Linked DNA regions of Homo sapiens. The protein of the gene in region 6 interacts with the protein of the main gene of each other region in a pairwise test. Each region holds a gene or a part of one and is shown on either strand. Other genes may lie near its edges.

What was found.
Region 1: the proteins of CDR2L (region 6) and MESD interact in binary tests that used the Homo sapiens proteins (3 or more experiments, as listed by UniProt).
Region 2: the proteins of CDR2L (region 6) and ELOA interact in binary tests that used the Homo sapiens proteins (3 or more experiments, as listed by UniProt).
Region 3: the proteins of CDR2L (region 6) and TCP10L interact in binary tests that used the Homo sapiens proteins (3 or more experiments, as listed by UniProt).
Region 4: the proteins of CDR2L (region 6) and DRC12 interact in binary tests that used the Homo sapiens proteins (3 or more experiments, as listed by UniProt).
Region 5: the proteins of CDR2L (region 6) and SPRY1 interact in binary tests that used the Homo sapiens proteins (3 or more experiments, as listed by UniProt).
Region 7: the proteins of CDR2L (region 6) and TCEANC interact in binary tests that used the Homo sapiens proteins (3 or more experiments, as listed by UniProt).

What each region holds. Positions count from the first base shown.
Region 1 is NC_000015.10:80,979,648-80,984,091, forward strand, and holds part of MESD (LRP chaperone MESD precursor), read right to left. Parts: intron 2,536-4,444; coding exon 2,303-2,535; intron 1-2,302. UniProt on the Homo sapiens protein: Chaperone specifically assisting the folding of beta-propeller/EGF modules within the family of low-density lipoprotein receptors (LDLRs).
Region 2 is NC_000001.11:23,746,119-23,750,562, reverse strand, and holds part of ELOA (elongin-A), read right to left. Parts: intron 1,543-4,444; coding exon 1,486-1,542; intron 722-1,485; coding exon 615-721; intron 1-614. UniProt on the Homo sapiens protein: SIII, also known as elongin, is a general transcription elongation factor that increases the RNA polymerase II transcription elongation past template-encoded arresting sites.
Region 3 is NC_000021.9:32,575,247-32,579,690, forward strand, and holds part of TCP10L (T-complex protein 10A homolog 1), read right to left. Parts: intron 3,586-4,444; coding exon 3,448-3,585; intron 1,678-3,447; coding exon 1,528-1,677; 3' UTR 1-1,527. Other genes in the region: CFAP298-TCP10L (uncharacterized protein LOC110091775), read right to left, coding at 1,528-1,677, 3,448-3,585. UniProt on the Homo sapiens protein: May be involved in transcriptional regulation. Has in vitro transcription inhibition activity. Acts as a tumor suppressor in hepatocellular carcinoma (HCC) cells.
Region 4 is NC_000011.10:119,189,542-119,193,573, forward strand, and holds the end of DRC12 (dynein regulatory complex protein 12), read right to left. Parts: intron 3,703-4,032; coding exon 3,610-3,702; intron 1,300-3,609; coding exon 1,169-1,299; intron 1,101-1,168; exon of another isoform or gene 1,026-1,100; intron 912-1,025; coding exon 759-911; 3' UTR 713-758; downstream 1-712. UniProt on the Homo sapiens protein: Component of the nexin-dynein regulatory complex (N-DRC), a key regulator of ciliary/flagellar motility which maintains the alignment and integrity of the distal axoneme and regulates microtubule sliding in motile axonemes.
Region 5 is NC_000004.12:123,399,171-123,402,344, forward strand, and holds part of SPRY1 (protein sprouty homolog 1), read left to right. Parts: intron 1-369; exon of another isoform or gene 370-624; intron 625-2,366; 5' UTR 2,367-2,421; coding exon 2,422-3,174. UniProt on the Homo sapiens protein: Inhibits fibroblast growth factor (FGF)-induced retinal lens fiber differentiation, probably by inhibiting FGF-mediated phosphorylation of ERK1/2. Inhibits TGFB-induced epithelial-to-mesenchymal transition in lens epithelial cells.
Region 6 is NC_000017.11:74,989,894-74,994,337, forward strand, and holds part of CDR2L (cerebellar degeneration-related protein 2-like), read left to right. Parts: intron 1-4,444.
Region 7 is NC_000023.11:13,655,659-13,660,102, forward strand, and holds part of TCEANC (transcription elongation factor A N-terminal and central domain-containing protein), read left to right. Parts: intron 1-3,993; 5' UTR 3,994-4,028; coding exon of another isoform or gene 4,029-4,110; intron 4,111-4,444.

The DNA.
Region 1 (4,444 bases), on a different chromosome or scaffold from region 6:
AGCTTGCTGAACTATTAAACATCCAGCTCAGATCAAAATAGAAACAGACACTGGATGTTCCTTTGTTGTATAAATGGATGCCCGTGTTAAAAGTGAACATTTGGAAAACCTCCCTAGGACACTGCAGAGGTGGCTCAGGGGCTGCTGCTGGGGAGGTAAAGAGGCAGCTTCGATCTGATCTGTATCTGTTTTATATTCTAGAGTGTCCAGTTACACTTTTATGGGACAAAAGACTTCTGCTGATAAAGGTGGAAAACCAATGGCTTAGAGTGGGTCATGATAAGAGGCTATGAAGGACTCAAGAGGACACTTGGTTGTTGGACAAAAATCCTAGCCCTTGAGCTTAGCAGCAAGCTGCCCAGCTCGTCCACACTCGAAAGGTCCCAAGGAACAAAGCGGAAAGAATGAGGCCTGGGTGGAGCCCTAGTGTGGCCAGCGGGCAAGATTCTTCTGTTCCTTAGGGACTACACCACGCGTTCCCCCTTCAGTTTCTAATGCTCCCACCACTCCACAGAGACCAGTGGGCCTTCTGGAGCAGACATCACCAAGACATTTATTTGTTCTGTCTAGGTGTCTATTTAAGCTAATTGAAAATATTTTGCTGGCCGGACACTCTCTAAGTACTCCTCCCATTTCTTGTCATTGCTTTTATATTTCCTAAACCAGAATATTTGCAGACCCCAAATTTCAGAACTGTTTTTGAGGAAAAAGAAGCAGATTTCTTAAAATTGTACCTCAGGACCATACTCAAGTGTGAAAACTGAGCCTCTTCATACTAAATTAGTTATCGGTTAACAGCATGGTCCAAGCTCTATGTGTGAACATAGCTACACACAAAGCACTTTCCACTGAGCAGAAACTTCTAGCTGAAGCTGTCAAACTATTAACTTTGTCCCTCAAAGAGTCTAAACTAAGCTATACACCCTTCTGTTCAGATGAAATAAAAGCTAAAGATCCAAAGATAAATAAAACTTTAGGATCAACTGAGATATTAAAAAAAAACACACACTAGGCATGGTTGCCAGTGACAGTAATCCTAGCACTTTGGGAGGTTGAGGTGCAAGGATCACTTGAGGCCAGCAGTTCAAGATCAGCCTGGGCAACATAGTGAGACCTCGCCTCTTCAAAAAATAAAAACAAAAACTTAACTGCTTTTACCAACAATAAATGCCCTTTTTTTTTTTTTTTCTTCCCCGAGATGGAGTCTTGCTCTGCCGCCAGGCTGGAGTGCAGTGACGCAATCTCGGCTCACTGCAACCTCTGCCTCCCAGGTTCAAGCGATTCTCCTGCCTCAGCCTCTGGAGTAGCTGGGATTACAGGCGTGCATCACCATGCCCCGCTAATTTTTCTGTATTTTTAGTAGAGACAGGGTTTCCCCACGTTGGCCAGGATGATCTTGATCTCCTGACTTCGTGATCCGCCCACCTCAGCCTCCCAAAGTGCTGGGATTACAGAAGTGAGTCACTGCACCCGGCAACGCTCTTCTTTACATTAAAAAAATCTAGATAGGCTGAGTGCAGTGGCTCACACCTGTAATCCTAGCACTTTGGGAGGCTGAGGCAGGCAGATCACGAGGTCAGGAGATTGAGACCATCCTGGCTAACACGGTGAAACCCCGTCTCTATTAAAAATACAAAAAATTAGCTGGGCGTGGTGGCAGGTGCCTGTAGTCCCAGCTACTCGGGAGGCTGAGGCAGGAGAATGGCGTGAACCGGGAAGGCGGAGCTTGCAGTGAGCTGAGACTGCGCCACTGCACTCCAGCCTGGGCAACACAGTGAGACTCCGTCTCAAAAAAAAAAAAAAAAAAAACAAACTAGATAGATAAATAATTTTAAAAGAAAACCTAGAAAGGAAAGGCAGAGGCCCTTGGGAAATACGGCCAGAAAGGACACCCTGTTAAGAGCCTCAGGAAAAGCCCCAGCACAGGGCCAGGTGTGGTGGCTCACGCCTGTAATCCCAGCACTTAGGGAGGCTGAGGCGGGTGCATCACCTGAAGTCAGAAATTCAAGACCAGCCTGGCCAACATGGTGAAACCCTGTCTCTACTAAAAATACAAAATTAGCCAGGCATGGTGGCGGGCGCCTGTAGTTCCAGCTACTCGGGAGGCTGAGGCAGGAGAATCGCTTGAACCAGGGAGGCGGAGGTTGCAGTGAGCCGAGATCACGCCGCTGCACTCCAGCCTAGGCAACAAGAGCAAAACTCTGTCTCAAAAAAATCATCATCATCATCATAATTAATAATAATAATAAAGAAAAGACCGAGCACAGCCTATGAGTCTCTCAGCTGGTTGTTGCTGCTTTACCTCTGGACGTCATAGTTGGCATTGAAAAGGCTGCCCTGCCAGAGGCTCGTAATTTCCTCTGTCTCCTTCTCAGTAGGGCTTCCTGATACAGTGACAAACATCATGAGAGTCTTCCCTTTTTTCGTCATTTTCAATATGCTTTCAGGCTTGCTTGGGTCTATCTTTGAGAAGTCGACAGGTGCTGAAGGTCTCTTGTGCTCTGGAAGATCTCCTTCTTCAATGTCATCATCTTTCTATCAGATTAGGGGAAAAGCATCAAACCTATCATCAGAATCTTGCTTTTCAACTGGCACAGGCAAAAACTTCTGCATGATGTCAGGTGCATGTATATGACTTAAATTACAACATAAAAAGGAAAACCAGGGGTTTTCTTCCTCTTCTTAACTTTCAAGATAGTCTAAGTTTCAGGCAGCACATACTACCCACACCCAGGTTACCAATCACAGAGCGCCCCCATGTGATGGGTTTCTAGAGCTTTTAAACTCTCATACAATCTACCCAACATGGTAGGCTGTAAAAATGGCCACATTCTGGTATGGTCACACAATGAAATACTTCACAGCAACAGAGAACAAATACTGATACATCTAACAAATCCCAAAAATGTTAAGTGACAGAAGCCAGATACAAAATAAGATTTACTATGCAATTCCGTTTATTTAAAATTCAAGAATGAGCAAAACTAATCTAGGGTAACAGAAATTAGAACAGTGTTGCCTGTAGAAGGGGGGACAAGGGAGGATTAACTGAGAATGGACACAAGAGAACTTTTCTGGGGTGATGAAAATGTTCTACATTTTGACAGGGGTGTAGATTACACAGATATATCCATTTATCAAAATTTATTGCAGGCCAGGCACTGTGGCTTACCTTGTAATCCCAGCACTTTGGGAGGCTGAGGTAAAACGATCACTTGAGGCCAGGAGTTCGACATCAGCCTAGGCAACACAGTAAGACTGTCTCTAAAAAAAAATTTAAAAGTAGCCAGGTATGGCAATGCACACCTGTAGTCCCAGCTACAGTGAGGCACACCTGTAGTCCCAGCTACTCAGTAGGCTGAGGTGGGAGAATTGCTTGAGCCCAGGAATTTGAGATCAGCCTGGGCAACATAGTGAGATCCCATCTCTTAAAAAAAATTTAAAAATTAGTCAGGTGTGGCGGCAGGTGCCTGTAGTCCTAGCTACTCAGGAGGCTGAGACACGAGGATCACTTGAGCCCAGGAGATCAGGGCTGCAGTAAGCTATAATTATGCCACTGCATTCCAGCCTGGGAGACAGAACGAGACCCTGTCTTAAAAGAAAAAAAAAAAAAGAAAAGAAATACTCCCTCTTTGCACTGTATACTTAAAATCTGCACTCCATGTATACCCATTTCACTTAATAGGCATTGTACAAAAATATTCAATTCCAGTTAGCAGGTTTGTTTTCTGTAGTGGTATGGGCTAGCAATTCTGAGACTATCTTATGTGACCTCTAGGATTGAGAAAAGGAGTAAACATATTGAGGGTAATGAGAGCCAGGTTCTTAACTTCTGGGAAGTAAGTTACAAACATGAAAGGGGGAAGAATGAGCCCTGTGGTATTAGGCTGGAATTGAAGGTATCAGGAGAAACTCATGGTTTTTCATAGATTAACAGATGAGTAAACAGATTAATGGATAAAAATATTTAAAAGAGCGTGGGTTCCTTGGAGAACAGGCTTATAGCAAGAGAGACAGAAGATGAGCCTAGAATAATCCCGCATCACAAAGTAGTAAAGTGCTCAAAGAATCGTGAACATGTCAAAATGCCATGGAAGCCAACTTGAAGCAGCTCTCATGGGCCAAAGTTGAAATAATCTCAACATCAAAATAAATAATAGTATGACTTACAACCCCTCAAACAAAATGAGATGTTGAACCCATAATGATCAAAACAAATGAATAAATTACTAATAGAAAACAGTAACTTTTTTTTTTTTTTTTTTTTTTTTTGAGATGGAGTCTCACTCTGTCACCAGGCTGGAGTGCAGTGGCACGATCTCGGCTCACTGCAACCTCTGCCTCCTGGGTTCAGGCGATTCTCCTGCCTCAGCCTCCCGAGTAGCTGGGATTATAGGCACGCACCACCACATCCAGCTAATTTTTGTATTTTTAGTAGAGACGG
Region 2 (4,444 bases), on a different chromosome or scaffold from region 6:
ATAAAATGGGGGCTGCTCACTATTTATCTAGTTCACAACTTAAAAAAATGCCATTTAAGGAGCAGTTAGAAAGAAACATACCAGGCCAGCCGCGGTGGCTCACGCCTGTAATCCCAGCACTTTGGGAGGCCGAGGCGGGCAGATCACGAGGTCAGGAGATCAAAACCATCCTATCCTGGCTAATACGGCGAAACCCTGTCTCTACTAAAAATACAAAAAATTAGCCGGGCGTGGTGGCGGGTGCCTGTGGTCCCAGCTACTCAGGAGGCTGAGGCAGGAGAATGGCGTGAACCTGGGAGGCGGAGCTTGCAGTGAGCCGAGATCACGCCACTGCACTCCAGCCTGGGCAACAGAGCGAGACTCTGTCTCAAAAAAAAAAAAAAAAAAAAAAAGAAACGTACCAAAATGTTCATAACGTTTGTCTTTGCGTGATAGAAATAGGAAATTTTGATTTCTATTTTTAATATTTTCTAATATTCTACAATGATCATGGATTATTTTTTATAATTGAGGCAAAACAATTTCAGAAGGCAAAAGAGAAATAATAAAGAAAACCTTTTCTATCTGTAAATTTAACCATGAAATTGAACAAACCTAAAGAGAAATGTTCTTACCGTTCCACAGGAACCAGCTTCTTCCACTGGGCCACTAGGTCCCTGGCAAAGCTTCCAACATGCTCGTGTTTTCGCAAGCTATTTACTGTTTTCCCAACCCCAGTCTCCTAAAATTTGACAAAGTAATTGTTAGAGGGGTCTGGAACTAGGCTAACGTTTTTCTAAAGAAATAAGGCTTTCTACTTTGAGAAACTCAACAAGCAATACTTCCTTCCTACAACATACCCTGCAAATCTTAACACTAAATTACTTTGTGTCTATGCCCCAAATCTCTAATGACACACAGTAGCAAAGCGTACCAAGTTCAGAACTTTAATAACAAGAGTGATTAGGGCAGGTGTTAGGCACTAAGATAAGAGCTTTGCATACAGTTCTGAATCAGTCTTTACAATAACCCTGTGAAGCAGGAATCAGACCCATTTTACATAGGAACAGCCTAAAGTCATAGAACTCAGATTTGAATCTGGGACTAATTGATGCCAAAGTCAATGTTCTTTTAATTCTAATTTTGAAATAAAGTCATTTAACAATATTCACCACTTTAACTAAAGTACATAATTCAGTGGTTTCCAGAACATTCACAATATTATATAACCATTATAACCATCTAATTCCAGAACATTTACATTACCCTAAAAAGAAATCCTGTTCCTCCCAATTCTCCTAGCCCCTGGCAACCACTAATCTACTTTCTGTCTATGGATTTGCCTATTCTGGACATTTCATATAAATGGAATCAGACAATATATGGCCTTTTGTGTCTGGTTTCTTTCACTTCCAAAGCCCATACTTGTAACCTTATTCTACACACTCTCCAGTGAGAAGGGAATGGGATATCATTATATAATATTTAAAGTCACACAGTTCTTACCGCAAGAATGTCTACTGTAATAGGCAGGGTGGAGAGTTTCTTCAAATATTTCAATAGCTGCAGAGAAGAAAACATTAATTTCAATAGTCAAATTCACTTTAACAAGAATATCTGATTATTAAGTGCTTAGTGCTAACCATTTACAGTAATGAGTATAAGTATTATGCCTATTTACAGTAGTAAGTAATATCCCTATTTTACAAGTATGAAAATAGGCTCATAAAAGTTATGTTTCTTGTCCCAAGATGCAAGTGGGGCAAGATTCACTCAGGTCTGTGGCTTTAGATTCCCTGCTTTCAACCACTGTGCTACACCAAGGGGAAATAAGATGTAGAGAAGAGAATCAAAACTTACCAACTCTGATAAAAGCCATCAACAACTATCATTTTTGCCCTAGTTTTGATAGAATTTATGAGAAAGGTACCAATTTTAGGGGAATTACCCATGGACCTGGCACAGAGGAAGTAAAAGGAAGAAAAGGCCTCTACAGGAAAAGACCATCATGTTTCCAGAAGGGCCACAGTGTTTAACAGAATTGTTTTCTTCTACATAAGTGTAAAGCCAAGAGTAATTTCAAGTTGCCAGAATCAGAGCTTGGATGTTAACGGTGGACACAAAATGCCTGGGTAGATTAGAAAAGTGATCTGGGTTTGATCACATTTCCTTCCTATAGTTCCTAAAACTAGGTCAAAATCAGTACAGCAGAGCTGTTAAGATGGAGTTCTGGAGTCAGAGACAGGCTTGACAATCTGGCTTTGTCACTCGATGAGTGATCTTGAATAAGTCAAAAACCTCCCCAAACTTCAGTTACTTCATCTGCAAAATAGGAACTTGGTCCTGTCTCTACTTCACAAACTATGAGGATTCAGAGACAAACCATGTGCAGTCCTTAGTCATAGTGTCTAGAACACTATGAAAGCTCACTAAATACTTATCATTTCATTCATCGACTGACAGCTTTCAGCGTTCTGCCCTTGATCTTCAACCAGATATTCCTCAGCCAATTCCTACTTGCTCTAACAAAAGTTATGACTGGCCAAACCTTTCTCTAGGAAATGTCTACGTGTATCTAAACATACTTACCATACAAGGAGTGCTTCAAAATACAAGTAGTTTAAAATAGATAACTGTGGTTACCTTTGCATTTAAATATTATATAACAAGATCTGCTTTTACCATGTGTGGCCCAGACTATAATTGGTATGCCATATTGCTATTAGGTGGAGTAACAAGTCTGTTTTTCTGGTCATTCTACTTCAATCATTACTTAACATGGTCACCAGACAGAGCAATTGGATCACAAGTGATAATCTTGAGATCAAGTAAGAGGCCAAGTGGCATATCTAGGGAGTCTCACCTTCATAGATGAGTGAAAATTATCCCCCACTTCAAATCCTATCACCACCATCATCCAACTCAGGAAAAATTTTGTGTTTCTTGCCACCCAAGCTATGGGTGCAAAGACTAATGCCAATTCCTTCACTTAAAGGAAAATTTTAAATCACTGAAAAGGTCAAAAACAAGTGGTTCTCTCATAATGCCATTCCTTGGAAGGGGTAGGTTGGGAATATTCACATACCATCTATTGTGTGTCAGCTACTACACTAAGCTCTTACACGTTACCTCATTTCATTCCCACTAACCAACTCTATAAAGTGGATGTTATTCTCCCCATTTGACAGATATTGCAACTGAACCCAATCAGGTTAGGTAACTTGCTTAACAAGCTGGAAAGTCAAATGTGTCTACTACAGTTAAGTAAAGCCAGGAGAAGCATCCAACATCAGAACACTGTCCTTAGGAAATGAAAATAGAGCGGCAGCACATATACTTCTTAGCATACTTGCAAGAAAGCAGAAAAACTCCTCCTGTGATGTCATTAGACAGTTCAGAACCCACATAGTAAAGGAGGTCACCAAGGGAACAAAGGTGTCCCAGGACCTCTACAAAGCCAACATATAAGGATGAGGCTGGAAGTCACTGTGGGTGTGTTTATCTCAAAGCCTAGCACTAACTGGAAGAACAAATCCTGTCTTTCTGCTTTACTTTGGGTTATTAGGGGTGATTTAAAAGCAGACAAAACTAAAACCCTCAAGATTTTCAGACTCATTTAGTCTAACACAAGAGAAAAAAGGACTTCACAACCCCTCTATTTTCAGTAAATTTCAAGAAAGAACAAAGCAATAACAAGGCAAAGGCACATTGGGCATCCTCAGGTGGATCGAAACTTGCTGTTATCAAACAAGATACCAACTATAGAGCTTGTAAGAACTGGTAACAGGCAACTGAGAAATATCAAACATTTGCAAGGTACATGTTGAGGCATCTCAGTTGTCCCCTGTACAATCCTTCAACCCAAAAAAGCAAAAAATATTTTTAATGTCACCTGCCATCAAAATGTTCTTGGTAGCTTTCACAGTGAAAATGTAACACAGGACGAGGATCCTTTTTTTTTTTTTTTTTTTTTTTGGAGATGGAGTTTTGCTCTTGTTGTCCAGGCTGGAGTGCAATGGTGCCATCTCGGCTCACTGCAACCTCCGCCTCCTGGGTTCAAGAGATTCTCCTGTCTCAGCCTCCCGAGTAGCTGGGATTACAGGCACCACCACCATGACCAACTAATTTTTTTATTTTTAGTAGAGATGGGGTTTCATCATGTTGGCCAGGCTGGTCTCGAACTCTTGACCTCAGATGATCCGCCCCTCTTGGCCTCCCAAAGTGCTGTGATTACAAGCGTGAGCCACTGCGCCCGGCCAACTGTGTGTGTGTGTTTTTTTTGTTTTTTTTTTTTTGAGACGGAGTTTCGCTCTTGTTGCCCAGGCTGGAGTGCAATGGCGCGATCTCAGCTCGCTGCAACCTCTGCCTCCCGGGTTCGAGTGTTCTCCTGCCTCAGCCTCCCGAGCAGCTGGGATTACAGGCGCCTGCCACCACACCTGGCTAATTTTCGTACTTTTAGTAGAGA
Region 3 (4,444 bases), on a different chromosome or scaffold from region 6:
GAACAAGGTAGCCAGGCTGGAGCAGACCTGATGGGAAGGGCTTCCCTGCCCCACAGAGAAGTGCAGAGGGGACTGTGAGGGCACGCAGAGCCTGAGGTGGTCTGAAGCAGACAGATGGCACCAGCCTCACCTCTACGAAGCTCCCTGCAGAGGCCATGAAACAGCCTGGGGGTGGGCAGGAAGCCCGGGGGGCAGACTCAGGAGGAAGACAGTGTCAGATTCGGCCCTGAAGGGCCACGCAGACCTCGGCCAAGGATGGGAAGGAGTCCAGGTGCCAGGCAGCCCAGGGCGAGTGGTGCCCACAGGCTTGGGCTGTGCTGTGCATAAGGGCCACACCTGAAGCTCGGCCACACCTGAGGCTCGGCCACCACATAGGCCCCGTTTCTTTACCAAGATAGGTTCCTGCAGAGGTCGTGAAGCTGCTGTGGTCATTTGCTGGCAGCGACGTGAAGATAGAATTCTTTCCTGACTCAACCAGGGGCACTCTCGTCTCCTCCCCGTGAGACCCGCAATGCAGGAAGCACCCACAGCTGCATGGACAGAACTGGGGCCTGGGAAAGAGGCCAGGAAGGTGCCAGATGAGAGGGCGCTCCATCAGGGTGGCAGCAATGCCATGGGCTGGCAAATGGAGAAAGGGGAACAAAGCACCCAAGTGCATCTAGCCCCAGCCACACGCCTTCTGCTGGGAGTGTGCTCAGAGGGAAGTGACCGCTAGGATTCGGAATCTCCAGTCACGGCCCCTGGAGACCGGCATGTGGGCTGTGTGTGGGGTGGAGGGCTGGGGGTGTTGGCAAGTCTCACAGGTGAGGACCCAACGAGGGAATCAGACAAAAAGTGGCCACAAATTAGGCAGCTCCAGGAAGGACATGTCCTTGCCATAGTAAGATGTTCTGCTCACGCGTATCCACGAGAAAGCCCCGCATTTCACGGGGAGCATAGAAACAGGAGTCCCCAACTCTGCTCACCAGCTCCTCCGGCTGCTGCCATCTGCTCCTGCAGCATGGCGGCCTGGGAAGCCTGCACTGGTGATTTTCTGCCACTCAAGTTTTGCAGACTTCGGGAAGATGGATGCATAGCCTGGGGCAATGACAGTCACAGGCCCGCCTTGTCACAAGGTCCCTGGAGCGGGCAATGCCTTGAGCCCAAAGGCTGGGAGCACAAAGCCATCTTCAGCCATCCTCGATTTCCAGCAAGACCCCAGGGCTCACCCAACAGCCCGACACTCCATACTACAAGGTGGGTTAATTTTTTTAAAGACTCTGCAGAAATATACCAACTACAGAGCTCAGGAAAGCAACTGATTTATAAAACCCAATCCAAGTTGTTTGCTTTTATAGCATTAGAGACATGTCTGAAGAACTTCAAGTTTTTATCTATAGAAACATAATTAGTTTAATAAATTACTAGGTCTATTTTGAATAACAAATTGAGTACTTTTATTAGACCTAAGTGGAACTTTATCTGAATCTGAATTTTCCAAGGGGCCAGTGTAGAGTGACACAGGTGTCCGAGGCCACCTTTCCATCTTCAGACACCCCCCCGTCTCTCTGCACAGGGAGTTGGCCTTCCAGTAGGTGTTGCTCTTCTGTCTTGACGTCTCCTGGAAAGATTTTTATCTCTATTTTCCTGTGGTGGTGTTTTCCACGAGCTAATTCTTTCTATCTTTAAACTCATTGGCTGAAAACAAATGTGGGAATATTTTTGCATTAGTAACAATTATATTATTTTTAAATGTTAAGCAACACATCATACCAGCTATCACAGAATGTAGATGATTCTACTCCCCCTTCCTACAGAAGGACACATGAGGTATCCACACTTAGTGTCTCTCATTCCCCATTTTACAGCCCACGCTCTTGTGAAATTTGGGATTCCAATACATGGCTGATATTGTAAAGTCAACAGTGAAATAAAGTGCTTGAAACTCAATTCAAAAATGCATAATAAAAATAATTTTCTACATTTTGCACTATTTAACAATTGATGGTTTCAAGGCGTGGATAAGCCACCCATTCAGTTATCTATTTACTCGTACATTGCCCCGCATGCCTGTGATTAACTCAGGTCAATGATGGAGCATGAGAGAAGTCCGCGTCTCACAGGAGGCTGGGCCTGTGCAGTCCACCCTGGGACTTACGATGTTTTGTACTCATAGGATCTGAAAAGGCTCTTTTCCTACTTGTGACAAATGCTTGGAGTAGATTTCTGATCTTCCTTCAGGGAATAAAGTGTTATCTGCTCAGCAGTTGCTTTGGGAAAGAATGCGAGGGGATAAATCATCTTCAGGAGTTGGGGGCGCCTTCTCCATCCACATCAACCCAGTATCAGTTGCTGGCTGTGGACTCACGAGATTTGCTTCCTGAGTATGAGGGTGACACAAAGCTGGGACAGGAAGAGACACACTGGCTGGGAGAATGTTCTAAAGAGGAGCTAATTTTAACAAAGAAAAATGTGATAGAGACTGCCGAGACCAGCTCGGTCAGGAAGACCCTAACCCAGCAGTGCTAGAGGAATTAAAGACATACGCACGGAAGTATAGCATGTGGAGTGGGAAATCAGGGCACTCACAGCCTTCAGAGCTGAGAGCCGTGAACAGAGATTTACCCACATATTTATTGACAGCAAGCCAGTGATAAATTGTTTCTATAGATTATAGATTAACTAAAAGTATTCCTTATGGGAAACAAAGGGATGGGCCAAAACAAAGGGATGGGCTCTGGCTAGATATCCACAGCAGAAACATGTCCTTAAGGCACAGATCGCTCATGCTACTGTTTGTGGTTTAAGAACGCCTTTAAGCGGTTTTCCACCCTGGGTGGGCCAGGTGTTCCTTGCCATCATTCTGGTAAACCCACAACCTTCAGCGTGGGCATCATGGCCATCACGAACATGTCACAGTGCTGCAGAGATTTTGTTTGTGGCCAGTTTTGGGGCCAGTTTATGGCCAGATCTGGGGGCCTATTCCCAACAAGAGACAAAATAGCATCCTGTACTGTGGCTCCCAAGCTAACAGCGCCACCCCTGTTCAGAGGAGTCCACGCCGACAAGCAGCAGGTGCAAGACCGCAGTGCAGAAGCAGGGAGCACGGGAGGCTGCGAGCCCTCAGACTCACGGGTGGAGACAGTGCCACACACATCACCTCCGCAGCCTGCACCCACGGAAACAAAGCCCCCAAGTCCCCTCGGCCCCAGCCAGACGCTTGCTGCTGTGAGTGTACTCAGAGGGAAGCAGCCGGGAGGACTTGGAATCTGCTCCACAGCAAGAAGTGCTAAGGGTTAGGATCTTGTTTGAAAGGCATGTACCCGTGTCCTTGGAAGAACACAGGACTCCAGGGAGCACCATGCTCACCCAGGGAGGTGAAATTGTGTGGTGAGGAGCTGATGGGATGTGTGTGTTTGGGTACAGAACCTCTGCTTCTCTTTACAGATGATAAGCACAAAGGGTCACCTTTGGAGGAGCTGAATTGTTAGATGACGATCTTTGTCCCAGGAGAGTGGCACTCTGATTCTTGTGGCCAGCGTATTTGGGTATTGTCTCTTCATCAGCTGACAGAGGTGAAATTTTTCCAAAAGCAGGTTCCAATGCCTAAAAGACAAAATGCAGGGAAATTCTTCACATTTTCGAAGGTAAAATAAATTCAAATTTTAATACAATGAAGAATAATTGGAATGTCCTAGAAAAAAATAGGGTACAAGGTAGGGGGACTTGGACTGGGTTTTCCCCCTAATATGTTGATAAGAACAGAAACCCTCACCAAGCGTTTGTGAAGGAACCTTTGTGGAGCCGATGTTTGCTTTGTGTTTCTTATTGTGGTTCCTTGTTTCAAAATGATCACAGGATCCCAAAGGCTACAGAACAAACAATCCCCAACATATCTTCCTTTAGGCTCCTGTGTCTTCAACCGGGAGTGTGTTAACGGAGGAAGAAAATGTGATACTACTTCTAGTGTTGTCTCTACAACTTGTCTAAGATCCAAAATGCAAATTCCCAACTTTCCCTGTTATCAGCAGACTGACCTGGAACAGGGTGATCCTTCAGGTGGGATGAGGTATATTAGGTCTGGAATGCTAAATTATTCACCGTTCTGCCCTCTGAGGAGGAGAAGGGAATGAGAAGGGGAGAGGGTTGCTATGAACGAACCCTTAATATCAGATCCAGAGTGGCTCACCCACACAGCCATGCCCGCGTTCTGTGGGTGCTCGAGTCTCAGCCTTTTAGATATTCAGTCCCTAAAACGGCGACTACACACAGATACACCTTCGCATATTTAAAGTGTGGGATTCACATATCCCATCCTGTTTCTTCAAATCAGGTATGCTCTTGTGAGCGTACATCCTGTTCTTATAAATAGCCCCACGGTGACCAGTGCAATGCACAGAATGGAAAAATATTTGGAAATTCACCAAGCTCTAATCTCAAAATAAGAGAATGATCAAAACTGCAG
Region 4 (4,032 bases), on a different chromosome or scaffold from region 6:
CTCCAGCCTGAGGTGGTGAAGGCAGGATGCTCTCTCTAAGCCAGACCAGAGGGACTCAGACACCACCGATCACAGGCTGGCCCAGGTGCTCCCTCCCTTCCTGCAGGCCCACCTGCCAGCAGAGGGTGTGGTTGGAGGCCTCAGACAGGTCCCTGAAGGAGTCTGAGGCTCCAGAGGATGTCATATGGGAGTTTTAGAGAGCTGTGTCCCAAGGATGAAGGTGTGGCTGTGGGTCTGGCTAGGATTGAAGCCATCTGGACCTTTTCTAGATATGACTCCAGGACCCTTGAGTGTAATGCAAAAATTTGGAGACCAGCTATGCCTGCCCTCTGTGGGTGCCTTAGCATTGCGGGAGGGTGGTGCTTGGTCACCGTTGCATTTGTTATAGAAATGGCCATTCGCCATAAATCTGACTGCCTGTGTTTGTGTTGGTGGGGGTAAGGGGCAGTGGTGTGAAGGGACCAAAAGGGCCTCAGGCTCAAGGGGTGGGATGCGGCTCCTGCAGGAGAGAGGTTGAGACCTGGTCAAATTTATTTCCTATCAATCACTGAATCTCAGGGATAATGGGTCAACCCAGAACTGAGATGTCTGTATGACAGCCACTCCTAAAAATAAACAACAACAAAAACAAAAAAAGAAGAAAACTAAATAAAAATAAAAATAAAAATAAGATCCACTTCTCTCTGCCAAACGGCCAGAGCCCACAGCTCTATTGAGTTCTACATCAAGACACTTTATTGCTGGGGCCTCAGAGAACACTAGAGACTAGGGGCTGGTGGCCTCAAAGATCCAGGGGGGGTGAGTCCAAACTGGCGTTGCTGCTCCTTGTGCCTGGCGTGAAGTCTCAGTGCTGCCCCATCCCACTGCTGCTTGATGGCTCTCAGCTTGGCCAAGAGCCTGTCCAGACTGTCCTGCAGACATCAATATTTCAGACCCCAGAAAGAGAGAGAGGGAAGGAGTGAGTGCTGCCCCAGGTTGGTTCATAAGCTTTCCTTGCCCAGTAGACATGGTCGTATCCCCTCTGTCTGCCCTCAGGATAGAGCAGGGCTCCCTTGGAGACGCTCCTTCTCCTTAACCCTGGGTTGTCAGTCATCATACGAGCTGGGGTTTGTGGGCATGGGGGAGTCCTGGGTACTGGGATGGCTGGGATCCAGGGGGTGGTGCTTACGTGTAAGATTTCCTCATACTTCGCCTCCATGTCTGCCATGTGGGCCCGAAGCTGAGCCAGGGCCTGGTCCCGCTCTCCGAGAGCTTGTTCAGCCTCTTCCCGGGCAGCTGCAGCCTCCCTTTGGCATGCCTCTGGGGGCAGGCAGGATGAAAGAGAGCAGGATGGTGACACTCTATCCTTGACCAGTCTCTCCAAAGGTATCTGGAAAGGAGACCTCAAATGGGCTCGTTCCAGACTCCCCCAGCATCACCAAATTTCCCGCAGTCCCTGTAAAAGCTGAAGCTCCACTGAGGTATATAGCAGAGAGTGGCGGGCTTGAGATAGAAGGCTCCAAAGTCGGATTACTACCTAGGTGACCACATGCATGTCTCTTTCTGAGCCTTGGTGTCTTCATCTTTTTTTTTTTTTTTAGATGGAGTCTCACTCTGTCGCCAGGCTGGAGTGCAGTGGCGCGATCTCAGCTCACTGCAACTGCCACCTCCTGGGTTCAAGCAATTCTCCTGCCTCAGCCTCCCGAGTAGCTGGGATTACAGGCACATGCCACCATGCCCAGCTAATCTTCGAATTTTTAGTAGAGATGGGGTTTCACCATGTTGGCCAGGATGGTCCCTATCTCTTAACCTTGTGATCCGCCCGCCTCGGCCTCCCAAAGTGGTGGGATTACAAGTGTGAGCCACCGCGGCTGGCTGGTGTCTTCATCTGTAAAGAGAGAATGACACATCCCTCAGGGGCATGCTGTGACCTTTAAACATGATAAATGGATGACAAAGCACCTAGCTAGTATACAGGAGGTGCTCAGTAAACATTGATTCATTGGCCGGGTGCGGTGGCTCACGCCTGTAATCCTAGCACTTTGGGAGGCCGAGGAGGGCGGATTACCTGAGGTCAGGAGTCCGAAACGAGCCCGGCCAACATAGGTGAATCTCCATCTCTACTAAAAATACAAAAATTAGCCAGGCATGGTGGCGCACACCTGTAATCCCAGCTACTCGGGAGACTGAGGCAGGAGAATTGCTTGAACGTAGGAGGTGGAGGTTGCAGTGAGCCGAGATTTGCCATTGCACTCCAGAATGAGCGACCAGAGTGAAACTCCGTCTCAAAACAAAAAACAAAAAACAAAAAAATCCCCAAAACAACAACAGCAAAAACAAAAACAATTGAGTCATTGATTGACTTGGAATTTGAGGTAAAGCAAAGATTAGGAAAGGAACCCAGAGTCTGAATGGCAGATAAGCAGCTCCTGGCCATCTATAGCTAAACCGAAGGCCTTTTTTTTTTTTTTTTTAGTTGGAATCTTACTCTGTTGCCGAGGCTGGAGTGCAGTGGTGCGATCTCGGCTCACTGCAGCCTCCGCCTCCTGGGTTCAAGTGATTCTCCTGACTCAGCCTCCCAAGTAGCTGAGATTACAGGCACACGCCACCATGCTCAGCTAATTTTTGTAATTTTAGTAGAGATGGCATTTCACCATACTGGCCAGGCTGGTCTCAAACTCCTGGCCTCAAGCAATTCTCTTGCCTTGGCCTCCCAAAGTGCTGGGATTACAGGGGTGAGCCACCGCACCCGGTTGAAGGCATTTTTAAGGTATGAAAACTTTGAGACCAAAATTGTGAAAGAGCTCATGTGTCATGCTGAGATATTTCAACATTATTTTGTAAGCAAGAGACAAGAGAAGCAAAGGCTTCCTGGTTTTTAAAAATATTTTTGCTTATTAGGAGTGTTTATTCATTTATTTGGTGAACAGTTATTTAGGATCTACCAGATGCTAGGTCTTGAAGATACAGAAGTAAATAAGTCAAACATTTCCCCTTAGTTTCATTGTAGAAATCAGCTAAACTAAAAGGGAATATGTTTTGCTCACAAGAGACATGGCAGTGGTGGGGAGTTAGGGCTGGACTTGAGAGGAGGAAATGGGGTGTGAGGCCTACATCTTCTTTTTTATTTTTATTTATTTTTTTGAGACAGAGTCTTGCTCTGTTGCCCAGGCTGGAGTGCAATGGCGTGATCTCGGCTCACTGCAACCTCTGCCTCCTGGGTTCAAGCGATTCTCCTGCTTCAGCCTCCCGAGTAGCTGGGATTACAGGTGTGCGCCACCACATCCGGCTAATTTTTATATTTTTAGTAGAGACGGGGTTTTGCCATTTGGCCAGGCTGTTCCTGGACTCCTGACCTCAGGTGATCCGCCCGCCTTGGCCTCCCAAAGTGCTGGGATTACAGGCCTGAGCCACCGCGCCTGGAGCCTCTTCTTTACTTACAGCAGAGATTTTTGGTATCCCGAACCCTCTGCTGCAGTCCTCAGTGGTGGAGGGTCAGCGAAAGTGGGGAAAGTGATCCAAGAGCCCAGACGGCAGCTTTCTGGAGCAGAGACTTTGAAGTCTACCCCTTCATGCTGGCCCTTGCTGCAACTCTTGGAGAGAAGGGGCTTGGAGGGTGGGGAAACCTACCTAGCTGCCCCCGAAGGCCTTTGACTTCTTCCTCCAGCTGCTTGCTGCGGGTTTGCATATCCTCCTGCAGGGCATGGCACTGGCGACTCATCTCTGGGGTGGGGGCAGTGGGCCACCAGGGACCCAGGTTGGAGATGGAGGGATGGAGAAAGGAAATGAAGTTGTGGGTGGGGAAGACTCTACTTGGTCTAGTGGAACAGGAGCACAAAGGCCTTCTTGGTTCTTTTTGTGATTCTGAGAAGCTGCAGACCATGAAAACCTGAGGAAGGGACAGGAAGCCCGACCTACCTCCCCCAGTCCAGCTTTGGATGGGGATGCTAGCCCTTCTCCCCGCCCATGGGCTGATTGAGATGATGGCTATGACTGCATGTGTATCCTACACAGCATCAAGCACATGGCACCAGGCATCCTGGAAGGCCCCTG
Region 5 (3,174 bases), on a different chromosome or scaffold from region 6:
GTTCGAGACCAGCCCGACCAACTGATGAAACCCCGTCTTTACTAAAAATGCAAAAATTAGCCGGCCGTGGTGACGCGCGACTGTAGTCACAGCTACTCGAGAGACTGAGGCGGGAGACCCGCTTGAACCCGGGAGGCGGAGGTTGCAGTGAGCCAAGGTCGCGCCACTGCACTCCAGCCTGGGAGACAAAGTGAGACTCCGGCTCAAAAAAAAAAAGTGGGGAAGTCCGCCCTCCTGAGCTCATGGTAACCTCAGCCTCCTCCCCTCCTCCTACCACAGAGAGAGGGAGAAAGAACTTGTTTTCATTCATAACTTTTTCCTTTTCCTTCTTCCGTCAACTATTTATTCAGTGCGGATTGCAGAGGGCGCAGCTCCACCGTGGTAACTTGCAATGTGGCCGCCCCTGCGCTGGCTTCTTTCTCCTCGGCCCTCGGTGAACCCAGCTTTTCCTTTAAAGCATAGACAAATCCTTGCTTAGGGTCAGCCAGACCGTGGGCTTGCTTTGGGCTCCCGCGTGGACGCTGAAGGCTCTTCATGATTTCTCAGAAACCTTGGTGGGCCACCCAAAAAGTGTGTTGGAAATCCACGGTGATCCTTAATATGGTGATGGGATTGTCCGAAAAGGTATTCTACTTCCATTCGCGTTTTCTTGGGGAAGGCAGTGTGCCGAGCGCGTGTGAGCGTGTTTGGGGCTTGTCCAAGACTGTCACTGCTTGAAAATGGGCTTTTCTTCGGATCGGAGGTGGCGAATTTTCTTTGCTTTTAATTTTTTTGTCTGGCAACTTTATTTCCCAGCCAGTATGAAGTTTGTTACAACTATCATTGGAAATGCAAATTGAAGTTGTGCCTGGTGTTATGGGTTACACTATTCAAATCCTCTGCGGTTTTGTGAATCTGGCTTAGTACTTTTAGCTACCTTTTGCTTTGAAAGCACTGAGTTAAGAAGTTCTTGAAGAAGAGGAATAATTGTGCAGGAGTCAGGATTAGATGTTGAGGACTCCGAGACTAAATCCCCGCAGGTTATGAATGTGTTACTCCTCATGCGCAAAGAAGGTAGAATAAAGTAGAAACTCGAGAGAGCTGAGTTGTGAAAACGAGGGGGAGCTCCAAGAAGTTAACATGTAAGACATAGTTTAGAGACATTAGTTTAGGAAATATAGGAAATGGACTTCTTTCTGCGTTGTTCCTTAAACCATGTTTTTTGCCTCAGGTTGGTAGTGGAGAATGGACATTTCTTTTTCTTTTCATTCTTGAATTGGGTCGACTCTGTAGACTTTAGAAGGAATTTGTGTGAAAAATACTCTAGTTCACCACTGAAAGCAGAAACTTTCATCTTTGGCAGTTTGTGAAGAACACATAAATTAGAAATAACTTACTATTAGTATGGAAACACAACTGCTTATTTTTATCTGGATATTAGTGTGCTGATTTTGTTACAAGAAGAACGTTGAATCAGAATTGGCAGTGCGTTTGAAAATCAAGGTCTGTCATGTAAATACAGATTTTTAAATCAGAGGAAATACAGATAATTAAAACTGCCAGGATTTCCCTACACTGCGTTAAAGGCCTCACACTTATTTGTGCATAAAACTTACTTTGTTTTGTGAGTGAGCCCTTCAGCTTAAAAAAAATCCTCTCAGGATTTCAAATATGAGTACTGTTATATATCATTCACTGGACTATACATTGAGTCTTGTGTGTGTGTGTGTTTGTAGCTCCAAAACACCAAGAATCGTTGTGTACCTGATACATTTATTTTTGCATCTCATAGATGAATAATAAGGTAGTTTTAAAATTCTGATTTATATAGAAAATTACCTATTATTTTGCGATTTCATTTTAAGAGTCTCAATTTTTTAATGCCTTAATTTTTTTCATCATTAATCTAATGCATATAACAGCACACAACAAAAAGGCTGTAGCACCAAAGCCATTCTCAATTTCTTAAAAGGTAGACATTTTCCTTTATGGAAGCCACCTATGAACTGATAACTGAGCTTTCTTTAGATGAGAGTTATTCTCCTGCTTATACTCAGTATTCCCTGCGAAGGCATGCTCCATTTTAATTATTAGATTCACAAACAGGAAGGCATTACTTTCTCCTGATTCTGCTTCTTAAAAGTTGGAAAAACTTATAATGTTCATGGCATGGGGTCTCTTGTTTATAGTCTTCCTCTATGATGTGGTCCCCAGCCTCTCCTAGAATTGGACTCTGGCCAGGACCCCAGCATCATTGTAATCCACTGATGAAGGAGGTCATTACTAGGCGGTTTAGGCAATTTGTGATTTGACAGGATTCCCCCCCCCCAAAAAAAATGCTTCCTGTCATTTATTTTCTGTTTTTTTCATCTTTGATTTCGTTTTAGGATTTCAGATGCATGCCAGGTTTCCACTGATTGCCAGAACTCGAGATCACTACACATGGATCCCCAAAATCAACATGGCAGTGGCAGTTCGTTAGTTGTGATCCAGCAGCCTTCTTTGGATAGCCGTCAGAGATTAGACTATGAGAGAGAGATTCAGCCTACTGCTATTTTGTCCTTAGACCAGATCAAGGCCATAAGAGGCAGCAATGAATACACAGAAGGGCCTTCGGTGGTGAAAAGACCTGCTCCTCGGACAGCACCAAGACAAGAAAAGCATGAAAGGACTCATGAAATCATACCAATTAATGTGAATAATAACTACGAGCACAGACACACAAGCCACCTGGGACATGCAGTACTCCCAAGTAATGCCAGGGGCCCCATTTTGAGCAGATCAACCAGCACTGGAAGTGCAGCCAGCTCTGGGAGCAACAGCAGTGCCTCTTCTGAACAGGGACTGTTAGGAAGGTCACCACCAACCAGACCAGTCCCTGGTCATAGGTCTGAAAGGGCAATCCGGACCCAGCCCAAGCAACTGATTGTGGATGACTTGAAGGGTTCCTTGAAAGAGGACCTGACACAGCACAAGTTCATTTGTGAACAGTGTGGGAAGTGCAAGTGTGGAGAATGCACTGCTCCCAGGACCCTACCATCCTGTTTGGCCTGTAACCGGCAGTGCCTTTGCTCTGCTGAGAGCATGGTGGAATATGGAACCTGCATGTGCTTAGTCAAGGGCATCTTCTACCACTGCTCCAATGACGACGAAGGGGATTCCTATTCAGATAATCCTTGCTCCTGTTCACAATCA
Region 6 (4,444 bases):
CTCCCGAAGTGCTGGGATTACAGGCGTGAGCCACCACGCCCGGCTGGTGGCACAGTATTATGGGCAGTGGGGAGGGCTTCCTGGAAGAGCCAGGCTTAGAAAGAAAGATCAGAAACTGAGTTCTTGAGAAGATGGTTTTCAGGGAGGCCGATGCCAATATTGTTGCTGTCTCACTTAATTCCTGCACCCCTAATGAAGGCTTTGGCACTGTTCCTGGCCCAGAAATGGGAAAGGAGCCAGGGCATAGAGGTGGGAGATGCGCAGAGATGTGCAGCTTCTTGAGAGAGAGAAGGATCTGAGACTCCAGCTGCGCTGGGTGGCCGTGCTCTGGGCTGCCGGGAGGGATGGGCCCGGCAGGCCTCTGCTTCTCTGGCCCTGCTGGTCTGCAGCTGTTGGCCTGGCCTGGCAGCTCCAATGGTAGCCAAAGGCCAGGAACCAGGAGGGAAAGCAGAAATGAGACAGAATAAACTGGAGCTTCCTGCCAAAAGCTGGATGTCTGCTTACTGTGGGCCAGGTACTGTGCTGAGCCTGAGGACATAATCTCTGCCCTCAGAGGACTCCACGTTACATTAGAGAAGACAGAAATAGGACCAAACTCACAATGGCGTCAGAGTGAGGGGTTCTGCAGCTGTAGGCCCAGCAACGGGGACAGCAGAGACTTAGAAAGGTTTATGCCAAGGCCCTTTTGAGCTGGAGGCTCCCCAGGAGAGGGAGGGAAGAAGGCATTCCAGGGGGAAGCGATGCTTGTACCAAGTCATGGAGCGACATGAGAAGGCTGGAAAATAGGGAGGGAGGGGCTGAAGGAAGCATCAGACACGGGTTCTGTGGGGCATTCCCGTGGGCCCTGCCCGCCCTGTGCCCCAGGGGCCAGGCATGGAGAGCTGGATGGTGGGACGGAGCACGGGCCAAAGGCCAGCCATATTGGGTGTCAAAGGCCTGTTGCATCTCCCAACCCACAAATTCTCTTCCACCCAGCTGCTCCCTGGTTGCCTGTGAGTGGCCCAGAAATGGTTTTCTCAGCCAGCCACCTGGTCTTCCCTCCTGTCTGTTTCCTCCTGCCCAAAGGGCAGGCCCTGATTCCACTTTCCAGAAGCTTGACTGTAGAGATCCTGTTTGGCTTTGATGCTCTGTCCTGGTGGAAAGCAGCCGTGGGACAAGTGAGGTCCTAGATTCTCGCTGTGTTCCCTCTGCCCACTGCCACGAGCATTTATAAAAATAGAAAAAGCCAGCTGGGCACAGCAGCTCACACCTGTAATCCCAGCACTTTGGGAGGCCAAGGCGGGCGGATCACCTGAGGTCGGGAGTTCGAGACTAGCCTGACCAACATGGAGAAACCCCGTCTCTACTAAAAATACAAAATTAGCCAGGCGTGGTGGCACATGCCTGTAATCCCAGCTACTCAGGAGGCTGAGCCAGGAGAATCTCTTGAACCCAGGAGGCAGAGGTTGCAGTGAGCTGAGATAGCTAGCGCCATTGCACTCCAGCCTGGGCAACAAGAGCAAACTCTGTCTTTAAAAAAAAAAAAAAAAAAAGCCTAGAAAGAGCCGGGCACGGTGGCTCACGCCTGTAATCCCAGCACTTTGGGAGGCCGAGGCGGATGGATCACAACATCAGGAGATCGAAACCATCCTGGCTAACACAGTGAAACCCCGTCTCTACTAAAAATACAAAAAATTAGCCGGGCGCGGTGGCGGGCGCCTGTAGTCCCAGCTACTCGGGAGGCTGATGCAGGAGAATGGTGTGAACCCGGGAGGCAGAGCTTGCAGTGAGCCAAGATCGCGCCACTGCACTCCAGCCTGGGCGACAGAGTGAGACTCTGTCTCAAAAAAAGAAAAAAAGAAAGAAAAAGCCATTAATTATTAAGCACTGGCACTCCCTCTTTCGGCCCACATTCCTCCCCTACCTTGGACCAGGCGTGGCAGGCCCTGTGCGTTCCTCTTTCCAGGCTGAGAGGCAGCTGCTGAGTCACAGATTTGAAGTCCTTGGTACCCGTGCTGTCCCCGCCTGCCTAGCTGACCTTGAGTCCTCAGCCTCAGGAGAGCTCTGACCTGGCAACGGGAGGGAGGTCCTGCCTCCACCCTGGTTACCCCAAAGGTGACCTGACCCTGATTCTGTGGACCCAGAGTGGCTGACAGTCGTGCCCTGGAGCTGAGAACAGGACCTCACAGCCCTGCCAGGTGGTACTTGTGTCCACAGCCTGGAGCCCACACCCCTACCTTTGTCCTCCCTGAAAATGTCCCCTCTCCCTTTGCTGAGTCTCTGCTCTGGAATCTGTGGTGCCCGAGCCAGTGAGGGACAGTGGGATTTCTAAGTTTCTTTTCAAAGACAGGCCCTGGGTTCCCCAGACATTCCTCCTCAGGCCTCTGGGGCATTGCTTCATGTAAAACCACTAAAACCTCCTGAAGGAGACCCCAGAAAACCCTGGGGTCCAGGCAGGGGAGGTGCCAACCCAGACTTAATGTTGTTTTTTTTTTTTCTTTTGACCTGCACAGTTCAAACCCATAGCCCAGACTTAGTACCTTCCCTCAGCTTGGTCCGGTGTGTCCCATTCATCCAGCTGTGACAGGTTGTTACTCCACTTTCACTTCCTGTCTAGCCAGCTCCCCCATTCTCCCGTTCCCAGGCCTCTCTCCTCTGAGCCTGGAGCCATCACCCACCCTCTGGTAGCTGGTGTCTTCTCCCTAGTACTTGGCTCCACTCAGTTCCCTGCTCTGCAACTTCTAGACTATTCCCTGATCCCTCCTGGCAGCTTTGACCAGCTTAGCTTGCGCTGTGATCCAGTTTCCCTAAAATGATCTGAGACCTGCCTCTCTGCCCCCAAACAGCTTCTATTGTGTTTCTCTTTCTACCTGTCCCTGAATCACTAGGTGGCCCAAGTCGATTCACTGCCTTCAAAGGGCAACCTTTGATGTCTCTGGTTTATAGGGTGGTATACCACCCTGGCCTGCCAGCATTAGAAATCTACACACAGCCCAGACACTAACCTGGAAGTGGGGGGTATGATGTTGCACTGCACTTGGCCTTTCTTCACTCACCTCTGATGCAGTGGCTTTGCACTCTAGTTAAGCTGCAGGGGCTCCATGAAGGCCACTTACTTGGAGCATGTCCTCCGACACCCACGGCAGGAGGTAGAATCAGTAGCAATGGCCTCTTTGCAGACCATGTAACAGTTTCCAAGGGGGAAAACATTTAGGAGAGTAGCCCTCTGATCTCTTTCATGTATATCTGAACTGCTGGATACTGTTCAGGATGAGCTAAATTTGAGTCCCACTATGGAAAACAGGAAGATAGCATGGCTGTCTCATCACAAACTGAAGGTGATCTTGCCCGGCTCCTGAGTCCTGAGTTACTGCCATGCGCACAATATAGTACAGGGCTGTAGTTCAATCTTTTTTTTTTTTCAAGACAGAGTCTTGGTCCATCGCCCAGGCTGGAGTTCAGTGGCACAATCTTGGCTCACTGCAACCTCCGCCTCCCAGGTTCAGGCAATTCTCCTGCCTCAGCCTTCTGAGTAGCTGAGATTACAGGTAAGCACCAGCACGCCCAGCTAATTAATTTTTTTGTAGAGACAGGGGTCTCACTATGTTGCCCAGTGCAATGATCTTTACATCAAACTTTACAATTTGTAGATACCTCCAGACTTTTGCCCAACTGACAGGTCATAAATTCATACAGCATATATCCGCATTCCCTTACTAGGTTTATGTTATGTAACTAGTTTTTTCTTGGCATCCTCATCAGAAGGTTAATTGCTCAAGGCTAAAAGTTCTTACCTATGATTTACATGATTTGGTTTCTTTGTTGTTGTTGTTGTTTTCAATGGCTGAGGAAGATGTTTGGGAAAGCTGCCTTTGTTTTTTCAGGCTAAGTTACTGCAGCCTTGCTCTAGGATAGCAGCTTTGCACTCCTTCTCCAGATGACACAGGGCCCTCCTTTGGCTAAAACCCAGCCCTGGAGGCTCCACTTTGGCTGTTTCAAAACCTCACCTCTGTGCACAGGATCAGACTCCGGATTTGTTCCTGTGGGGCAGTTCAGCCTTTATGTCCAGGCCCAGTGGCTGGTCTGGCCCCTCTGCCTCTCACAAGGCAATGTCAGTTCTGCCCCCAGCTTGGCTGAAGGCCCAAGGCTCTGCCCTCAGCTGCCCACCAAGAGTCACTGCTTGCCTGGGCTCATCCCAAAGGAAAACTTCCACCCCAGGTCTAGGTTTCTTTTCAAAGACATCCCTTGGGCTCCCCAGCTATTATTTCTCAGGCCTCTGTCCAATGCATAGCAAGGGCTCAGCCGAAACAACCGTATCTAGGAAACTTTCTGTCCGGGAGTATAGAGCCTATCCGTCCTCCAGAGACCCTAGAACTATCACTATGTCTAAAAAGGGAAAGCAGTAGAGAACTGGATCCCTGAACCACATCATATTGGCCCCAGTAGAGTTGCCTTTATGCATCTT
Region 7 (4,444 bases), on a different chromosome or scaffold from region 6:
GTCACCCTGGAGAGCTGAGCCAATATGCAGGCCCTACCCTCAGAGATCCTAATTCATCCTATCTGGAGTGAGGCCCTGCCATTGTTTGTTTTTGTTTTTTGTTGTTTAATTTCCCCAGAGGATTCTAATGTGCAGCCAGGCTTGAGAACCACTAATGGTGAGAGATCAGCCAGGCTCGGGATGCTGCTTGAGCAAAGGCACAGAGCCGTGCCCATCAGTGGTTGCGAGTAGTCAAGAGGGAGGCCTGCTAGGGCTCTTTTTGCCACTGGCCAAGGAGCTTTGGCTCCATCATGAAAGCAAGGGGAAACCTCTCAAGGGCTTTCAGCAGGAAAATGAGGGAGTATCTTTCTGAGATCTGTACTAGAGGATGATCCCTCTAACAAAGTGCCAGACTCACAGTTGGGCCTTGTGAGTGCCAGAAGTACAGTGAAGGCAGTAAAGAAGCAAATTGTAGCTGTCCAGATGATGGCGAGCCCAGATAGGGTTTGGTGCCATCCTGCGTGTGTTTCCCCTAGCAGCCAGTGTCTGTCCATGTTGAAATTCCACATGTGTTGTAACTGGCCAGTTTCTTGTCAGTATTACTCCCACTAGGCTATCAGCTCCTTCAAGGCAGAGACTGTCTCTTTAGGCTCAGCATCTAGCACATACTCAATCCCTAATATATATTTATTGAATGAACTATGTAGAACTAAGCTGGACATATGCCTTACCTTGTCTTTTTATGGCAATTGTCAGAATTTTGTATTTCAATGGCTTCCACATTATACCCTCCTAGGGCAATAAATCCTTTATATCCACATGATGGTCCCACAGAGGACTAGAAAGTTTGACTGGATTTAAATCCTGTTAAAAATGTGGAAGGGAATGGAAAACAATACAGTGGGTCCTCAAAAAATTAAAAATAGAATTACCATATGATCCAGCAATTCCATTTTTGAGTATATACTCTGAAGAATTGAAAGCAGGGTCTCAAAGAGAGATTGGTATACCAGTGCTCACAGCAGTGTTATTCACAATGGCCAAAAGCCAGAAGCAACTCAAGTATCCGTTGACATTTGAATGGATAAACAAAATGTGTTATGTATAGACAATGGAATATTATTCATTCTTAAAAAGGAAGAAAGTTCTGACACATGCTACAACATGGATGAACCTTGAGGACATTATGCTAAGTGAAATAAGCCAGTCACAAAAAGAGAAATACTGTATGATTCCACTCACATGAAGTACCTAGAGTAGTCTCATCCATAGAGACAGAAAGTCGAGTGGTGATTGCCAGGGGCTGGAGGGAGGGAAGAATGAGGAGTTGTTTAATGGGTGCAGAGTTTTCAGTTTGGGAGGATGAAAAGAGTGCTGGACATAAGCATCTTGATGGCAGGGACTGTGTCTTTTCAAAAATCCATGGGCTCTGTTTTATAGCACTTGATATTAAATAATCACCACCGAACATACACAGGCTAAGAACACTGAAGTGTTTAGAGAGAGAATTCACACAATCTTCCCAGACACCATATGACAAGTGACATAAAACATATTTACCTTTTAGTAATTCTACTTCTGTGAATTCACTTTAAGGAAACGAGAGATGTGGAGACCGCATATGTACGCATTTTCTTCAAACTTAGGAGAAACTGGAAGGCCCCAAATAGGAGAATGATTAAAAACTATCGCAAACTCCTAGGATGATCCAATAACATAACCATTTAAAAATCGTGTTTTTAGAGAATATTTAATGATGTGGAAAAATAGTCCTAAAGCTAAGTGAAAAAAAATCAAGATGCAAAACTATATGAAAGATTAAACAGTTATATAATCCAGCAGATTCAAGATAAATGAAAACATATGTCCATGCAAAAACTTGTACACAGGCCGGGTGTGGTGGCACATGCCTGTAATCCCAGCACTTTGGGAGGCCAAGGCAGGTGGATCACCTGAGGTCAGGAGTTCGAGACCAGGCTGGCCAACATGATGAAACCCTGTCTCTACTAAAAATACAAAAAGTAGCCGGGCGTGGTGGCACATGCCTGTAATCCTAGCTACTCAGGAGTCTGAGGCACGAGAATCACTTGAACCCAGGAGGTGTAGATTGCAGTGAGCCAAGATTGCACCACTGCACTCCAGCATGGGTGACAGAGCGAGACTCCATCTCAAAAAAAAAAAAAAAAAAAACACACACACACTTGTACACAAATGTTCATAGCAGTATTATTCATAATAGCCAAAAATGGGAAATAATCAAAATGTCCATCAACTGATGAATGGATAAATAAAATGTGGTTTATCCACACAACATAATATTATTCTGCCATGAAAAGGAATGAAGTACTGAAAATGCTACAACATGGATGAACCTTGAAAACGTTATGCTGAATAGAAGAAGCCAGATACAAAAGACCACATACTGTATGATTTTATTCACATGAAATGTCCAGACAGCAAATCTATACAGACAGAAAAAAGATTAGTTGTTGACTTGGTGGGGTGGGACAGAAGGGCAGTGGAGTGAAGAAAGAGGAGTGGCTGCTAAAGTGCAGGGATTTTCTTGGGGGGTGGTGGCACAGATAAATCTTCTAAAGTTGATTTATTTGTGGTGATGGGTTACACAACTGTGAATATACTAAAAGCCACTGAATTATACACTTTAGGGGAATTGTATGGTATGTGAATTACATCTGAATAAAGGTGTTATTTAAAAATAGAATCTGGTCCAAATTTTACTTAAGAATTACATATGGAAAGACTGAAGAGATACGCAAAATTTTAAAGAGGGGCATTTTCTGAATGGTGAGATTTTAGGTAATTTTCATTTGTTCTTTTACTCTTTTCTGTATTTTCTGTGATGAGCATGCATTGTTTTCATAATCAGAAAAGTTATTGGTCTAATATAATTTCATGATAAACTGTATACATTTAAGATACTGAAAAATGGTATGGTGAGAAATGAATCAATCACCTTCTACCCACCTTCCCTCTGAAATGTGAATATCGTCTCTTAAGAGTGGCTATATCACCTGTGGCTTTGCATTCAGATAAGTATTCATAATTGCCTCAGAAATCGATTACTGCATCTCAAACAGGTGCATCTCCCCTCAAACTTTATCCCCAAATATGAAGAGTTAAGTACCCTTACATAACCAAGAGTCTGAGTCCTACATTTTTAACCACCAGAGGGAGCTGGAATGTAGAAAACCTGGGGCAGTCAGTTTTGTTTTGTTTTAAAGTTAGTTTCACAAAGGGCCATCAATTCAGGATCTTATGTAATTTTCCTAATTATTGTGAACCAGCACTTAAAAGATAATTCTTTTTTGCCTTTTTAAAATTCCACTTTTAAAGACTGCATACAGTAAAAGAGGTCTTCCTAAGAATCAAACTCTTAATAAACAACAGGCAAGACAGCACAGAAAAATAAAAAATATTCACACCCTCTATTAGCGAACATTTCTCTCAGAATTGTCTGCTTCAGATCTTGAAGTCACGCAGTTGTGTCACAGTGATAAAGTTTCAAGTTATTCAATATACTTGAGCCCTCCCCGACTCGTTGAAAAGTTTCCTAACAAAGAAGAAACATTCAATGTGCCTGCATTCTATATGCATTACTATTGAAATCAGGATGGAGGTTTGCTAGGCATTGAGAAAGATGGTGAATAAGAGATGGGCCTACAGCGCCCAAAAGGAAGTTAAGCAATATTTGACTCAGGTCAGAATTTCTCAACTGAAGGTCTGAGTTTCAAGGTAATTCTTAAAGGGAATTGTAATTATAGCTTCGGGGTTTCAGTGGGGTGAAAGCAGCAATTTGTCTTACCAGCAAAATGAGTAAATCTATAGAAGTTAATGTATTTATGTATAAACAACCAAAAAGCACTTTGCTCTTCATTTTATATGTTCTTTTATTGACCTTTTCTTCATATTTCTTTAAAAAATTTTAATTGTGATAAAATATACAAAACATAAAATTTACTGTGTTAAGCCCTTTTTTTTTTTTTTTTTTGACAGAGTCTCGCTCTGTCGCCAGGTTGGAGTGCAGTGGCATGATCTCGGCTCACCGCAAACTCTGCCTCCCGGGTTCAAGCAATTCTCCTGCCTCGGCCTTCCGAGTAGCTGGGACTACAGGTATGCGCCACTACATCCAGCTAACTTTTTGTATTTTTGGTGGAGACAAGGTTTCACCATGTTGGCCAGGATAGACTCGATCTCTTGACCTCATGATCCACCCACCTTGGCCTCCCAAAGTGCTGGGATTGCAGGTGTGAGCCACCACGCCCAGCCTGTCTTAAGCCTTTTTAAGTATACAGTTCAGTAGTGTTATGTACATTCTCGTTCCAGAGGGGAGGTGGGTAGAAGGTGATTGATTCATTGCTCATACCATTTTTCAGTAGGTATATCTTAAGTGCATATAGTTTATCATGAAATTGCGTTAGACCAATAACTTTTCTGATTATGAAAG